Regions from separate parts of the Homo sapiens genome. Here region 1 is linked to region 2. The links come from fine-mapping of genetic effects on gene expression. A gene starts in region 2. The other region holds a variant in brackets. All regions are shown on one strand. Distances are between the middles of the regions. Region 1 overlaps LINS1 (lines homolog 1). Region 2 holds the start of LINS1 (lines homolog 1).

The links. PIP is the estimated chance that this variant, and not a neighbour inherited with it, causes the effect.
Region 1: its variant is fine-mapped to the expression of LINS1 in whole blood (TOPMed, PIP above 0.99).

Annotation. Positions count from the first base shown.
Region 1 is chr15:100,565,616-100,570,834 of GRCh38, reverse strand. LINS1 (lines homolog 1) reads left to right here. Exons shown (of 7, transcript NM_001040616.3): 7 at 718-3,911. The coding sequence ends at 1,597. Among named protein-coding and RNA genes, the nearest start is that of LINS1, 34 kb to the left of the region's middle. The variant G/A (reference allele first, on the strand shown) is at 2,132.
Region 2 is chr15:100,599,544-100,605,043 of GRCh38, reverse strand. It overlaps LINS1 (lines homolog 1), which reads left to right and starts at 2,860. Exons shown (of 7, transcript NM_001040616.3): 1 at 2,860-2,923. It overlaps ASB7 (ankyrin repeat and SOCS box containing 7), which reads right to left and starts at 2,455. Exons shown (of 6, transcript NM_198243.3): 1 at 1,998-2,455; 2 at 1,731-1,829. RefSeq lists silencers at 1,673-1,722, 2,173-2,432 and an enhancer at 2,603-2,942.

The DNA of each region.
Region 1 (5,219 bases), 34 kb after region 2:
GATTTTTTTGGTTGTAAATGATAGAAACCAACTCTAATTTGAGCAAAAGCCAGCATTTATTGGCTCATAACTGGGAATTCTAAAGGGTCAAGTTGGAGTCAGGTATAACTATATGTACAGGGACTATAATCAATCATGTCATCAATCACTTCTCAATTTTTCTCTGTCTCACAGTTTTGAATTCATTCTCAAGGCATGGCCACCGGCAGTTCAAGGCGTACCTCAGCCTTACAGTTATAATCTTCCATAGCTCCAGCAAAAGTCCCAGGGGAGACCTGATTAACCCACTTGGGTCACAGAGCCTTGTCAGAACCAGTCATTGTGGCCAGGAGCATGGAGTGCTCTGATTGGTCAATCTGGGTCACATGCCCACCCTTGTTGAGGGTAAGGAAGGAGGTTTAGGAATTATCTTACCACATGGAATTGGTTACCTATAAGAATGAGGAGTTCTGATGTCGAGAGAAAGAACAACAGGTAACTTTTATTGGGCAGACAAAAACTAGAACTGCCAAAGTCAGTGGATTTTGCTTTACTGAGTCAGATTTCTTTAGAGCTTATGGGGAAGGGAATGGGTTTTGAAATTTTTTCTTTTAAGAAGTGATGCATAGATTTAAAAGTAATCTAATAGGTTAATTTATGGTATGTGAATTATATCTGGTAAAACTGTTTATTTTTGTAAGGTCATTAATCTGCATTCTCCATTATCTTCATTTTCAGAGGATGTGAAGCCACTGAAAGCTTGACTCAGGGAAAAGAAATGTGGGACCATCACACACATGAAAATGGCTATAATCCTCACTGTATTTTCTTGTTCTTCTTGAAAAATATAGGATTTGATTCCACAGTTCTTCTTGACTTTTTGATTTCATCAGAAACCTGTTTTCTTGAATATTTTGTTAGATATTTAAAATTACTGCAAAAGGACTGGGATAATTTTTTCACCATTTGCAATAACTTTGATGCAACTGAATCTAAATATGACATAAGTATTTGTGGCTGTGTCCCCTCACTTGTCCAAGACCAAAGCTCCAACCAAACAATACCCCATCGTTTGACTGCTCCTCATAGTCACAGAGATGTGTGTGCTCGGCACTCCTGGGCTTCCGATGCTCCCTCTGAACCACTGAAAGCTGTGATGTCCAAGGGGGCTCACACCATGTGTGCTTCTAGTCTGTCTTCCCCCCGGGCCTCTCAAAGTCTGGTAGATTACGACAGCTCTGACGATTCTGACGTGGAATCCACAGAGCAGTGTTTAGCTAACAGTAAACAGACATCTTTACACCAGCAAGCAACTAAGGAGATTCAGGATGCAGCTGGGACAAGCAGGGATAAAAAAGAATTTAGCCTTGAGCCTCCATCAAGGCCTCTGGTTCTGAAAGAATTTGATACTGCCTTCTCCTTTGATTGTGAAGTAGCCCCAAATGATGTCGTCTCTGAAGTGGGAATATTTTACAGAATAGTAAAATGCTTCCAGGAACTACAAGATGCCATCTGCCGTTTGCAAAAGAAAAATCTTTTCCCATATAATCCAACTGCACTTTTGAAGTTGTTAAAATACATAGAGGTGATAAGTAATAAAACTATGAACACTTTGTAAAACATTGACATTTTATTTTCCAGGTATTGTTTTTCCTTAATATAAATTATGTCTCAATGAGGTAATAGTATAAAATCATCACCATAAAAGGGTTTTCTTTTTTTTTTTTTTTTTTGAGACAGAATCTCATTCTGTCGCTCAGGCCGGAGTGCAGTGGCGTGACTCGACTCACTGCAACCTCCACCTCCTGGGTTCAAGCAATTCTCCTGCCTCAGTCTCCCGAGTAGCTGGAATTACAGGTGCCCGCCACCACGCCCAGCTAATTTTTGTATTTTTAGTAGAGACGGGGGTTTCACCATGTTGCCAGGCTGGTCTCAAACTCCTGACCTCAAGTGATCCGCCTGTCCGCCCTCCCGAAGTGCTGGGATTACAGGCATGAGCCACTGTGCCCGGCTGGGTTTTCTAGACAAGTTCTTACTTTTTGCCTTATTGGAAGCAACCTAGTGACTGAAAAAGAGACATCAAGTGACAAGTCACTCATTATAGCTATATACCACTGGAGATTTATGGCAGTTCTAAGTGACACAAAATCGG[G/A]GGTGGTGATTGCGTTCCTCAGCTAGGGCTGCCGTAACAACTTGCCACGTGTGCCGCAGCTTCAGACACCTGGAATTATCCTCATAGTTTTGGAGGCCAGAATCCAAACTCAGGCTTCAGCAGGGCAATGCCCTCAGGGTCTGGAGAAGAATCCCACCCTGCCCCTTTCTGGCTTCTGGTGGCAGCCAGCCAGCCATGGTGTCCCTTGTCTTGTAGTGGCGTCACTCCAGTTCCTGCCTCACATGGCATTTTCCTGTGTCTGTGTCCAGTTTCCCTCCTACAAGGACATCGGTCATTGGACTAGGACCTACCCTCATCCAGTATGATCTCAACTTGATGACAGCTGCAAAGACCCTAATCCCAGATATGGCCACTTTCATGTGTCCTTGATGGACTTGAATCCAGGAGAGTCACTAACCAAATACAGTTACTATTTCCTTCTGGGGTATTTACACAGAAAGCGATATATTACAAATGTAAAATCTTAGCCGTTTCTTTGAGAAGTGATTATACCTGGCCTACTGTATGAACATGATTCTTTCTAAAAAAAAATTTAATCACTAATTTTCCTATTTAAAATTGTGACATGAATAATTATGTTCCATATTCTTGAGGGGAAGCCGTAAATTCCATTGTAATATGTTTGTGTAATAGGAGCAATAGCTATATTGTGCTGCGAAGTCTGGCATTAAGGCAGTCTAAAATATTGCCTGTACATTTTTTTTTAATGATCTCTTTGCAGAGAAACAGAACAAAGACTAAACCTACCGCACATTAAAATATATATTAAGGCTATGGTATTCGAAACAGTTTAGTACTTAATTCAGGTAGACATGGAAAAATCAGTGGAGCTAAATAGAAGGTTGCCGATTAAAATAACAGCGAAGTACCAGTGTTAGCCAAATAGCAATGCAAAGGTCAAAAGGTTTGCGTTTTAACATGCTGTCGGTGAGGCTATGCGTTAAGGCAGTTTCTACCGTAATTGAAAAAGCACGTCAAAGAATGTGTATTCAAGGATGCCACATAGTTTGTAAAAAATGTTAAGGTTTTAGAGTTTTACTAGAAATACCTGGTAAAGTAAGTCAGAATTTGTATAGTCAGTGGAATGGTAGATGCGTTCTATGCACGTTTGTGGATGTGAAACATCTCCAGTAAAAAACAAGTAAATACATGGGGCTTGCAATTATTTAGGGAAAGAAGCAGGGCGGGAGTAATACACATTCATATATATGCTTTTGTGCATGTATAAAATATGTATGTAAGACTACATAAGAAAGTCATAATAGTGGTTGCCTTGGGAGACAGGTCTGATGTGGAAGACAAAGTCTCATCTTTTTGTACTATTTTTAGTGGGATACATGCAGCACTGCATTAGGATGTTTCAATAACAGACCACATAGTACAGTGGTCCCATAAGACTATCAAGCCGTTATTTTTACTGTGACTGTCCTATGTTTAGGCATGTTTAGATACACGCATACTTACTATTGTGTTACAGTTGCCTACAGTATTCAGTACAGTAACATGCTGTGTACAGGTTTGTAGCCTAGGAGCAATGGGCTATACCATATAGCCTAGGTGTGTAGTAGGCTATGCCATCTAGGTTTGTTGAGTATACTCTGTGACATACATGACATGACAACAAAATTGCCTTACAGCTCATTTCTCAGAACATGTCCCTGTCATGTGACACATGGCTGTTTTTTGATGGAAATAACTGGGAAAAAAAAATCGACTCTTGTTCCTAAGGGTACATAAATGTTGAATGCATTATAACTCATGCTTATGCAGATGTGGTTTTGACTTGTGTTTCTCTATAAGGTTAGCAAGGAACTGTCAGCCCCTCATTACATGTAAAATGAGGGAAAAGCAATCTTACAGATATGCGAAGTTGGTGTTTCAGAATCTCTACATTTATAACTAACTCGAGTGTAAGTCAATTCATCACACACTCACTAAGCCCTGCTCTTGCTAAAGGTGACCCTTGGCTGGTGTGATCACTATCCTTGGCCTTTCTGAGCATCTAAGCGCTATTCCCAGAGTTACTTCTTAAAGGAACACAAAACTATTGATGCATGTCTGCACAGTGAATTCCCAGAGTACAACACAAGAGGAGTCTGTAACCTCACCCCTTCCAGTAAAAGAATATGGAAATACAAGTGAGCACATGGTGCTGTGCACCTGACTTATTTTAAAGCAGAAGAGATACAGAAAAGTGCACTATAAGTATACAGCTTGTTGAATTTTCAGAAACAGCACACCTGTGGAGCCAGTCCCCAGATCAAGAAATAGCATGAGGCACCCAGAAGTCCCTCTTGAATCCTCTCCCTGTCACTGTCCACCCCTGAAGGTAACTGTGTCATGAACTGAGACAACAGAGACAATCTTTGCCTGGTTTTCTCTTTCTTTTATAAATGGAGTCATAGATTATGTATTCTTTTGTTCAACATCATTTGGGAGTGTGTCCTGATTTATTTTTAAAATGTCAAGTACCTGGCCAGGCATGGTGGCTCACGCCTGTAATCCCAGCACTTTGGGAGGCTGAGGCGGGTGGATCACCTGAGGTCAGGAGTTCGAGACCAGCCTGGCCAACATAGTGAAACCCCGTCTCTACTAAAAATACAAAAAACCAGCCAGGTATGGTGGCACACACCCATAATCCCAGCTACATGGGAGGCTGAGGCAGGAGAATCGCTTGAACCCCAGAGGCAGAGGCTGCAGTGAGCTGAGATCGCTCCATTGCACTCCAGCTTGGGCAACAAGAGCAAAACTCCATCTCAAAAAAAAGTTAAGTACCCACATTTCAGCTATTATTAGTAACAAAATACTTTGACTCCTCATAATTCTCTGACACGCCTGATATGCTAGAACAGTGAGATTAGCAAACACTGGTCAAACAATAAATTGTATGGTAAACAGGTTATGCAGGGCCTTGTGCAACTGGCCCCAACCTGCTTCTCCAGGCTGTCTGTGGTTTTCTCCCCATCCACTGTTCCTTGCACAACTCTTGGCTCTTACATATTCATTCATCAAGCCCCATCTTCAGTGTTAGATTGTGAAGCCTTCCCCCATCCGTTCTTCACCATTC
Region 2 (5,500 bases):
GGACTAGCCACAGACTCCTTCCCTTTACCATCTCAGGTGAAACTACTCTTTAGAAATGAAAGCGTCCTAGAGTTACATGTAAAGCTGAAAAAATATTTAACTGAGAGGCTTGAATACAAAACACAGTACTTCATTTTGATCTTTAGAACATACTTCAAATATTTTAGCATTTTTTAAAAGTTCTGAAGTAATCATTAGGCCATCTCCCTGACAACTTCCATACTTACATAATAAAAATTAGCCTTTAAAGATTTCCGGGTAGCTTTTACTGAAATGATGTAGTCTAGTACTCCTGATTCCCTACATATACATACAAAAGCTGCCCTAAGTTTTCAACAGGGAACAGTCATTGGTAGATACTGATTCTAAATCCTATTCCCTAGAATCTCTTCTTTTGGCATGCAGTTCCATGTCTCAAGAATATGCATACCTCAGATCCCCTTAAAAGCTATGTCTTTATCTCTTTAGCTATGTCTTAAGAATTAACAGAATCAGTAAAGATACTAATTTCTTTTTGTGGAGGGCAGAAAGTCCAGTGGAACATAGGAAATCAAAAATATTAACTTCTGCTATTTTAAGCACTTCCTTGTAACAAAAATTCCCTAAACAATTTGGGATATTAAAATAACTCAGATTAACAAGTCACTTTATACTTTTGCTACTGGATGTTAAAAAAGTCATCCATTTGGCTAATTTTGGAATTAAACCTTGTATAATTTCCATGCTTATATCCCCCCTTTAGGAATTACACTAATGTCCTAAGTTTACTTTCAGAGCATTTTCAGAAGCAGCAACAAAATATGGCAGCAGAAATGTGATCACATGAATTAGATGCTTAAATTTCAATCCAGCAAACTCTACGTAAAAGTTTTAAAATGAGAAATCTTTTTTATAGAGTGCTAAAATTAAGACCCAGATATGTAAACACACCAAAAGGTTCCTTTGTTTTTAAATTCCTGAGTCAAACGATTAATAAGATATTGTGCAAATTTTTAAAAGTTCTCCTAGAAAATCTGAGGTGTAAGAAACATTGTATCTTTATAAGTTTCAAAGCCCATCCACATTTGTCACACACAAACACACAGAAAGCCCAAAGAGTTAATTATGCCTAAGTGCTTCAGGGTAATAATGTTGTCTTCATACCATTCACACTCTTAAGGTACACAGGTTGGCTTTCTAGTAGGAAATAAAATCAAACTATTTTCTGAAACTCATAAATCTCAGGCCAATAATTTACCTTTCTCTACCAAATCGTTGTCAGTTAGATAACTCAAAAGATTTTTCTGATGCAGGTAGAAGAAAGGTGATAGGAAAGAGTAAGGGGGAAAACAGTAAATTGTGGTTTAATTAAAAAGGAAAGTCATTCAGAATTAACAAGCAATTAACAAGGAATTGAGGAATTCCTATGAGAGTAAGGAAGGGAGGGTAGCTACAAAAAGGTCTCAAAGCCTCAGAGCAGAGTAAATGGCACAGTGTACCAAAAGATAATGAAAAACACAGAAACACACTGTACAGAAAGAAAGTGGGAAAATACTGTCCTGGGTAGAGAAGTTATAAAATGTTAAGTATCAGGCACGGGTAATGTTTTTGTTTTTCCTGGGAAACTGGGGGTGGGGGTGGGGGGGGTAGGAAAGGTTGCATTCCCAGGCAACCACCCTGAAAATAAACCACTGCTTAATGAGGTAGGGGCCAGGAATAAACAACGGGGGAGGGGAGGGCTGGCTCATTACCTTTACAGACGATGCTGGTCAGAGGCACTGTGCCTTCTGCTTCTCTGATAGGTGGGCAGACCTCTTCCTGCTTTCGCGTCTTCTTCAGCCAGCTCAAACCTAGAAAAACAGAAACCAGTGAGTGGTGTAGTGTCTCAGAGGTGGGGAGGGGGGAGCTCAGGAAAGGGGCTGGAGAGTGGCAAGGGCAGGCAAGAAAAAGCAGAGATTTTCCTCCCTCCTACCCTCCCAGCCAGCACTCTTCCCCTCGGGGGAAGTAAAGGACTTTACCTGTCTCCTCAGCTGCTGCTTCTCTTCCTCCTTTCAGCCTCCTCTACACTCACCAACTTCTCCATTGAAGAAATACCCCAGGCAGGGCCGGACCCTGGTGTTCCTGATCCTCCTCGGTGCCTCACGGCCCCAGCCCGGCGAACATCCGAACAGCCGAGAAGGCAGGAGGTGGCGATCCCGGCCGCCGGGCAGCCTTGGGGCAGAGGTGCAGGGAGGCAGGGAGGAAGTCCTGGCTCGGGTGGGGGGGCAGTCCCGGTCCAGGGCTCGGAGCAGGGGGCTGCCGCGCTCCGGGCCGGAGGCTTCCAGCTACGGAGGGACCCAGGAGGTCTCGGGACGGCGAGGTCCCAGGTCATACGGGGCCCGAAGTGCCAGCCGTGGGGTCTCCGGACAGGGGGCTTTCGGGATGCACTTTGCACTGGGCCACCCCCGCCCCCTCCCTTCAGCACTTTGGGGTCACTGGGATGGGACCAAGCCTTCAACAACCAATCAGCGCCCGCAGTGGAGCCTGAGCCTGGAGCCGTAAACCAGGTCCGGGATGGGTGGGGGTGGAGGGAGTAGGGACGACTTGGTTGGTTGGTTGCTTCCTTCTCTCCTCCTTACCCCCGGCAGCCCCCACCCTCTGCCTGCCGTAAAGTTGCCTTTGCATTCGCGACAGTTAAGGGAGGCGTGCCGAACGGGGCAGAGATTCGTCTCCGATTGGTCTCACTCACTTCCCCTTACAGCTTCCCCGTGGTGGCTTCCGAGGCTCCGCCCCTGGCGGAGGGACTCAAAGCCGTTGCTAAGAGACACTATTCGCCGAAGGCGGTCTCTGCGCATGCGGGAGGAGGTGCCAGCTTGTACTTTCTGTGAACTACGGTGGCCCAGAGCGGGCATTTGTGTTCCCTCAAATGGCGGTGTGAAGAGAGTTCGCCTGAGCCAGATCCCAGGCAGGTAACCGGGACCGGCCGCCGTGCTGGCAGCAGGGGAGGCACGAGTGCGGCCAAATGAGAGCCTGGTTCAGGGCTTAAGGTTGGGAGGGCGGCAGGCTCCAGGAAGCGAGTAGAGGGGTGCCTTGTTTCTCCGCCCCTGTTCAGCGCTTGTCAGACGCAAGTGCCCGGTCTTGGCGCGGCTGTCGGTCCTTGAGACCCCGTTAGCTTCCAGGCTGGCAATGCCTCGCCTGAAGTGGGAGAACGGACTCTCTTTGGGATAGCGATGACGATCCAAGGACCTTCCTGAAAGGATAGCAACGTTGGCGGGTTCCTGTGAATGAATGGAGAGGGGTCGTGGGGAAAACGCGAGATAGACTGATCAAGACACGTTTGTTAAGCACTTTATTCATTAGCAAGTGTTTACTGGCCACTGTTCTAGTCCCTGGGGAGACAACAGTGAACAAGATAGTGATTTCGGGGAAACAAACACAAAATTATCAGATAGGGATGGGTTATATGAGGAAAATCAAGCAGAATGGTGGAATCGATTTTGACCAGGACGTGATGGGCTGTATTAGATAGGTAGTGCTATGGTGTGAATATCTGTCCCCTTCAAAACTCATGTTGAAATTTAATCCCCAATGTGGCAGTACTGAGAGGTAGAGTCTTTAAGAGGTGGTTGGACCGTGAGGGTTCTGTCTTCACGAGTGGATTGATCTATTCATGGATTAATGGGTTATCACGGAGGTAGAACTGGTGGCTTTTTAAGGAGAGACTTGACAACTCGTGAGCCTGCTCAGCCCCCTGGCCACGTGATACTTTGCGGTGCTGTCTCGTGGTCCGTCAGTCTTAGACTTCCCAGCCTCCAAAACTAGACAATAAATTACTTTTCTTTATAAATTACCGAGTTTTAGGAATTATTTTATAAGCAACAGGAAACGGACTAAGACAGATAGGAAAGGTCTCTGAGGAAGTGACATTTGAGCAGGGATCTGAATGACAAAGAGCCAGCCATGCCAAGATCTAGGGAGAGAATTTTGCCAGCAGAGAGAATTAGAAATGCAAAGCCTCTGATGCTAGAATATGCTTTGCTGTTTACAGGAACTGCCAGAAAGAAGGCTAGGGTAGCTGAAGCAGAGTGGTAGGAAAATGACTGGTAATGAGACTGGGGAGTGGGGCATAGAGATGAGAAGACGCCGAGAGTCAGATCTTGAAGGGCCTTGGTAAGCCTTGTTTAGGAGTTTGGACTGTATCCTAAGGAAAGTGGATTGGTTTTTCAGAAGGAAGTGGGTGTAGGGTGGGCCTGGATACAACCACTTTGGAAGGGATCGGTTGCAGTTGTCCAGAGTAGAAGTGCAGTAGTGGCAGTGAAGATAGATTCAGCTTTTTAATTTTTGTCCCATTATACTTCCCAGCAATCATATTTCATAATTTCAACTTTCTAAATTTCCATTTCTTCTTGAAATTAGTAGCTGAATTATAATTAGAAACAACTTATTCAGGACTATTAAATGCTATCAATTTTTAGTAGCTTTCGGTCTTTCGATTCTACCATGATTTCTCCCTGTTTTTTTTTTTTTTTTTTTTGCTTAACAGCAGGACTCCAATGTAAACAAATAAAATAAAAGCGGTATTTTATTAGTATTGTTAAATGAAATGTATAGGAAGCCATTGTTTTAGATTAAACCCCTGCACTAGGCCCAACAGACCAGGCCAAATCAGAATGGAGTTGCTGGTGCTAGGTGTCACATAATCAAACAACTTAGAAATGGGCCAGTTGTCAAAAAATCCAGAAGATACACAGCAAGGAGTCAAGGAGGCCTGATTTACCTGAGCCAGCATGATAAAGAAGTCTCTCCTCCATTTGGTCTCTGTGAGGAAAGTTTAACTTTGAAATGACCAATCTGTCTTTTATTCTCTTTTTGCTTCTTCAACCGTTTTCAGCCCACCTCTGCTCAGCTAATCAGAACACCGTTTCTAAATTTTTAGTTGAGATGCTGCCAGATTCATAAATTGCTAATAAAAGCCATTTACATCTTTAAATTTGTTCAAATTTTGTTTGTTTTTGTTTTTGAGATGGAGTCTCCCTCTGTCGCCCAGGCTGGAGTACAGTGGTGCGAGCTTGGCTCACTGCAACCTCCGCCTCCCAGGTTCAAGCAGTTCTCCTGTCCCAGCCTCCTGAGTACCTGGGACTACAGACACACTCCACCACACCCAGCTAATTTTTGTATTTTTAGTGGAGATGGGGTTTTACCACGTTGGCCAGGCTGGTCTCGAACCTCTGACCTCAGGTGATCCACCCGCCTCGGCCTCCCAGAGTGCTGGGATTACAGGTGTGAGCCACTGCACCCAGCCTCAAATTTTGCTTTTTAACAGTTCAAATATAATGTACAAGTTCAGTTTTATAACATTTACTAATTATAGAGTCAAGAAGTTTTGAACTCCCAAAAAGAAGGAAAAAGAGGGAGAGAGAAATGAATAAATATGTAAATTGTTGTGGAGAACATATTCATTCTTATAGCAGACTCGGCACCCATGCAATTCATATGGTGTATTTGCTAAATGATAGTTAAGTAGAGAGATGGGGGCCTAAGA